Regions from separate parts of the Homo sapiens genome. Here region 2 is linked to region 1. A link means that fine-mapping ties the variant in region 1 to the expression of a gene that starts in the linked region. Tissue or cell type: whole blood. Region 1 holds a variant in brackets; the other region holds the start of a gene. All regions are shown on one strand. Distances are from middle to middle.

Evidence for each region. PIP is the estimated chance that this variant, and not a neighbour inherited with it, causes the effect.
Region 2: it holds the start of DCAF4, and the variant in region 1 is fine-mapped to the expression of DCAF4 in whole blood (TOPMed, PIP above 0.99).

Annotation. Positions count from the first base shown.
Region 1 is chr14:73,085,987-73,088,742 of GRCh38, reverse strand. RBM25 (RNA binding motif protein 25) reads right to left here. Exons shown (of 19, transcript NM_021239.3): 6 at 582-742. Among named protein-coding and RNA genes, the nearest start is that of RBM25-AS1, 28 kb to the right of the region's middle. The variant T/G (reference allele first, on the strand shown) is at 1,506.
Region 2 is chr14:72,924,961-72,927,588 of GRCh38, reverse strand. DCAF4 (DDB1 and CUL4 associated factor 4) reads right to left here and starts at 1,125. Exons shown (of 14, transcript NM_015604.4): 1 at 1,046-1,125. RefSeq lists enhancers at 1-415, 1,087-1,356, 1,647-1,746, 2,147-2,628 and a silencer at 857-916.

The DNA.
Region 1 (2,756 bases):
AGATGCCAAAAAGGAACTAAGAAGAGAAATGAAGGAAATATATACTCAAGTTTTAGCTATGTTTCACTTTGCTGAGGAGGTAATAATGTATACATTAAAATACAATATACAACAATGTCCTTTATTTTAGCTTCACTTAGTAGAGCTTGGATAAAGCCCCCAACCTAAGGCAAGTAATCAGACTTTCATTCATTTTAGAGTCGGTGTACTTCTAAAAGAGAGGGAAACTAATAAAAATTGTGTAGGTTGAAATATATTTTGTACTTACTTACAAAGCTGCCTTAATGAATTAGCTCTGTTTGGAATAGTCTGTACCAGTGCTTTCTCTGGCAAGTTAACCTTGTCCAGCCTCCCTTACTACTTTCATCCCAACCTGGAACAAGCAAACCAACAGTCATCCACCCACTATGGGCAGATAAGACTTAAAATAACTACAAACTATAAAATACCCTCCTACATTAAGCCACAAGCACATACATGATGATCTTTTGAAGCCCCATATTAGATTCATTTATAATGAGAAGCACTACACTGAAATAGCACAGTCTGGCCTAGAAAAGATAACACGACAGAAAACATACCCCATTAGAAGCTTTCTTCTTTGCTTTCCATTCATCCAGCTGTGCCTTTGTCTTTGCATCAACTTTAACGAGTAGCTTTTTCTCTCCAATTTGCAGGTCATGTAATAATCTGAGTGCACGGAGGGTAGATTCTGGCTCCTTGTACTCACAGAATCCGAAGGCTAGCAATGGATGAAAACAATTAGTGAAATACCAATTCACTTACAAAAGAAAAAAAATTATGGAAAAGTAGAATCACTAGAGTCCAAATGTTTTAATACAAAGACCACTCAATTCATAATTCCACCCCTGTCCACCAATTCCCTTTGATAACCATTTCACTTTTAGTATCCTCAAACAACCAAAGGGGAAAAAAAGGGAAAAACAGAGAGGAAGAAAAATTCAAATCAGACAAACTGCTACTCATTAGAAGCTCTAATAAAATATTTAGCAGAGTCAATGAAATTCATGATTAAAAGGAGTCAATTGGCCGGGCGCGGTGGCTCATGCCTGTAATCCCAGCACTTTGGGAGGCCGAGGCGGGTGGATCACGAGGTCAGGAGATCGAGACCATTCTGGCCAACACAGTGAAACCCCGTCTCTACTAAAAATACAAAAAATTAGCCGGGCGCGGTGGCGGGCGCCTGTAGTCCCAGCTACTTGGGAGGCTGAGGCAGGAGTATGGCGTGAACCCAGGAGGCGGAGGTTGCAGTGAGCCGAGATAGCGCCACTGCAGTCCGGCCTGGGCGAAAGAGCGAGACTCCGTCTCAAAAAAAAAAAAAAAAAGAAAGGAGTCAATTATTTCATAAATTCACCCTATCTAGACTTCCAAACAGCCACAAGAAAGAACAGACTGCAGGAACACAAACAATGCACTTTTCAATTCTGAGATGTTAAATTACAGAATTTGTATCCTAGTTACCAGTCTATTTTACTTACATCTAT[T/G]TCCTTTTATAACTAGTCAATCTCACTATTAAGATGACTTTAACAGAAATATTAAAACAAAATTAAATCTAAGAAGAGCAACCAACAAATTGAAAATAAAATCAAATAAATCTAAATATGTATATAATGACAGGAAACAGAAAAAAACTACTGATATTAAAATAGTAAATTTGACATTTCAGTGTGATATACCATAAAGACAAACAGATATGCCCCTCAAAAAAGTACCTTTAGGCCGGGCGCAGTGGCTCATGCCTGTAATCCCAGCACTCTGGGAGGCAGAGGCGGGCAGATCACCTGAGATCAGGAGTTCCAGACCAGCCTGGCCAACATGGTGAAACCCTCTCTCTACTAAAAATACAAAAACTAGCTGGGTGTGGTGGCACATGCCTGTAGTCCCAGCTACTAGGGAGGCTAAGGAAGGAGAATTGCTTGAACCCGGGAGGCAGAAGTTGCAGTAAGCTGAGATTGCCCCACTGCACTCCAGCCTGGGCAACAGACAGAGACCCTGTCTCAAAAAAAAAGAAAAGTAATTTTAAATGATCATATTGCTGATGATAGTGTCAATGTTGTTAGTGTGAAACTGTTATATGTGCAATGCAAGATAAAGCAACTCAGTAATTAATAGTTTATCATCCCCAATGGCCTTGAAACTCGGGGACCTCAGTGTGGGGAAAAAGGAGATACAAATATATGACAAAACAGGCTAAATAAAAACCTTTTAGTCCTGAATCTGAATTAGTATACACTGGAAAAACCTAAAAGCAAACACCAAACCACTGTTTTGTTTTTTTTTTTTTTTAGACGGAGTCTCGCGCTGTCACCAGGCTGGAGTGTAGTGGTGCAATCTCGGCTCACTGCAAACTCTGCCTCCCGGGTTGAAGCGATTCTCCTGCCTCAGCCTCCTGAGTAGCTCAGACTAAAGGAGCGCACCACCACACTCAGCTAATTTCTGTATTTTTAGTAGAGACAGGGTTTCACCATGTTGGCCAGGATGGTCTTGATCTCTTGACCCGCCTGCCTCAGCCTCCCAAAGTGCTGGGATTACAAGCTCGAGCCACCACACCCATCCCAAACCACTGTTAATATGAGTGCACCTAGTGTCCAGATCGTGATCTTCAAAACAATTTCCCCTGGAGAAATGGCTGATTCTAAGTCTGGGGCCGAAAACCTATTATACTAGATGACCTTAGAACAAATTGTCATACCAGATAACAAAGCAGCTGTCAAAGGTGTTCAGGGTCATGTCAA
Region 2 (2,628 bases), 160 kb after region 1:
ACGAGGTCAGGAGATCGAGACCATCCTGGCTAACACGGTGAAACCCCGTCTCTACTAAAAATACAAAAAATTAGCCGGGCGAGGTGGTGGTCGCCTGTAGCCCCAGCTACGCGGGAAGCTGAGGCAGGAGAATGGCGTGAACCCCGGGGGCGGAGGCTGCAGTGAGTCGAGATCGTGCCACTGCACTCCAGCCTGGGCGACAGCGAGACTCCGCCTCAAAAAAAAAAAAAAAAAAAAAAAAAAAAGAACACCACCGCGACTCTAATTTCCATCGTTATTTAAAATCAGAGTTTGGGACTTTGGAATTGTTTCCTCTAGGAAGCCGTCCCCTCAGTTTTCTTTGCTTCTGGCTGCGCTGCTGGAGTCACAAGACAATGCCTGTAGAACACCATGGTGAAAGGCGTCATGGTTTCTGAAGCCCCCGGGGAGCCCACGAGGCGTGGCTTTCTCGCTAACTCACAACTCAGAGTGGAGGCGAGGGCCAAACCCAGGCCCCATCACTTGCTAGTTGTGCGCTACCCCGACGGACAACCAAACTGCACCCCTTTCTGCGTCTGACAAGGACATCATAGCGCTGGCAAATGTTAGCGCCTGTGAAGCCGGCAGCACAGAGCCGGCCACTTCGTAAGCTTCAACCACACCTAACCTGTTATGCTGACCTGAACATTCACAGGGGACACCGCCCCAAGGCCCGCAGCCCAGCCCCCGCCAGGTGTCGGGTGGGGCCTTCAGCAGCAGGTCTCAGAGAAGCGCTTAGAGAAACGCCCTCAGCGGCGACACTCGGGGTGCCCTCCCTGCGTGTTTACGGTTGCAGCACTGATCCGGCCGGAGGGCCCCACGCGCCCCAGAACGGGCGGAGCGCGCCGGCCCAGCTGCCACCTAGGCCCGGTGGCGCCGGCGTTCCACGTGCTCACTCCTCCCCGCCCCTCCCCGCCCCTTTCCCTGGCCTTCCTCGCCGCGCCTGTCTCCCACCCCGAGCTCTGCAGCGGGAGCGCGGCAGCCCTCGAATCGATGCCAGTAGGCACCCCAGGCAGCACAGTCTTACCTGTTCAGCGTGTCCCTTCCGGATTCCCCTCCGGCTCAGCTCTGCAGGAGTTGGAGCGAAGCGTGCAAGGACCCGGAAAGACCAAGGTGTAGCGTCAGCCAGTTAGGTGGATGCGTTTTGGTGTTGTAGCAGCCGATAGGGCTATAGCGGCCGTTCTTTCCTTCTCACTGGACGCGGCTTCTGTCTGTCGACGTCAATAGGGACGATCTCATGAAGAAGGCGGGGAGTGGGGCTTCGGCTCCTCCCAGGCCTGGCCTGTCTGGGGCGGATGCACGTGGAGGCTGGTCATGGAGCGCTTGGGGGTGGGGCCAGGCGCACGCGGGGGCGGGGCCGGGGGCTGCTCCCGGAGCAGCGGAACTGTCTGGAGACCCTTTCGTGAGAGACCGTGTCTTCCTCCCTCCGCAGGGTGATGCGGCCCTGGAGAAGTCCTCTCGCTGTAGTGGAAAGAGCGAAGGAGTCTGTGAGGCGAGGGACAGAAGTAACGTGATGTTACGACTGGCGGCGAAGTCTTCGGCAGTGGCCTCAGGCGGCCGAGGCCGCTGCCCTGGGTCTGCGTTCAGGGTGTAGCGTAGCGAGCCCTGACCGTGAAACCGGGGGGCCTCCGTGTTGGCTCCAGTACTGCTGCTTGCTGTGGGACCTAGGGCGAGTCTCTTCCCTTCTCTGTGCCTTGATTTCTTCTGTTGAGAGAAGGAATCGGATCTATCATTCTCATGTCCTCTCCAGCTTAGAGTTTGTTCAGACCACCAATATTTCTAGAATGACCTATGTGTGCTGTGCCTGTCCCAGGTATCAGCTGACGGTTATGAGATCTTATGAAAGGAAAACGGAAGCCTCTGATGGGCTTGTGTCCCGAAGAGACAGTTTGTGAGGACAGCTGGATTCACAGAGGCTAGGCTTGTTGGGGTCCAGCAGTAGGCCTGGTGTGTCATGCGGCTCCGTAACACAGGCCCCTGCCCGCGGCTTGGACCCGTTAGAAAGCAGGCGGTGGGGTTCACCCATTGCACGCCGTGCGAAGGCATTTCAGCTCTTAACCAGGAAGCTAGGATTTCAGGCTAAACTCCTGGCTCTCAGGAGTTTATAGATAAATGCAGTATGTGGAGCGGGGCCGGGTGATGAGGGAAATGAGAGAAGTGGGCATAGTCAGAATAAAGAACCGCTTCATGAAGCTTGAGCGGCCTTGAAGAGAAGGCAGAGAAAAATTCTAGCTGAACAAACAACGTGACTGGAGGCCGGTTCAAGCCGGCTGGATGGGAGGGGAGTCTTGGAAGGAAAACTCAGCAGGGTGGGTTGGGGCTTGGTGACGCAGCAATTGCCAGGGAAAGAGTAGTCAGGCCGGGTGCAGTGGCTCACGCCTGAAATCCCAGCACATTGGGAGGTTGAGGCGGGTGGATCACTTGAGGCTAGGAGTTCCAGACCAGCCTGGCCAACATGGCGAAACCCCCAACTCTACTAAAAATACAAAAAATTAGCCGGGCGTGGTGGCGGGCGCCTGTAATCCCAGCTACTCAGGAGGCTGAGGCAGGAGAATTGCTTGAACCCGGGAGGCGGGGGTTGCAGTGAGCCGAGATAGCGCCATTGCACTC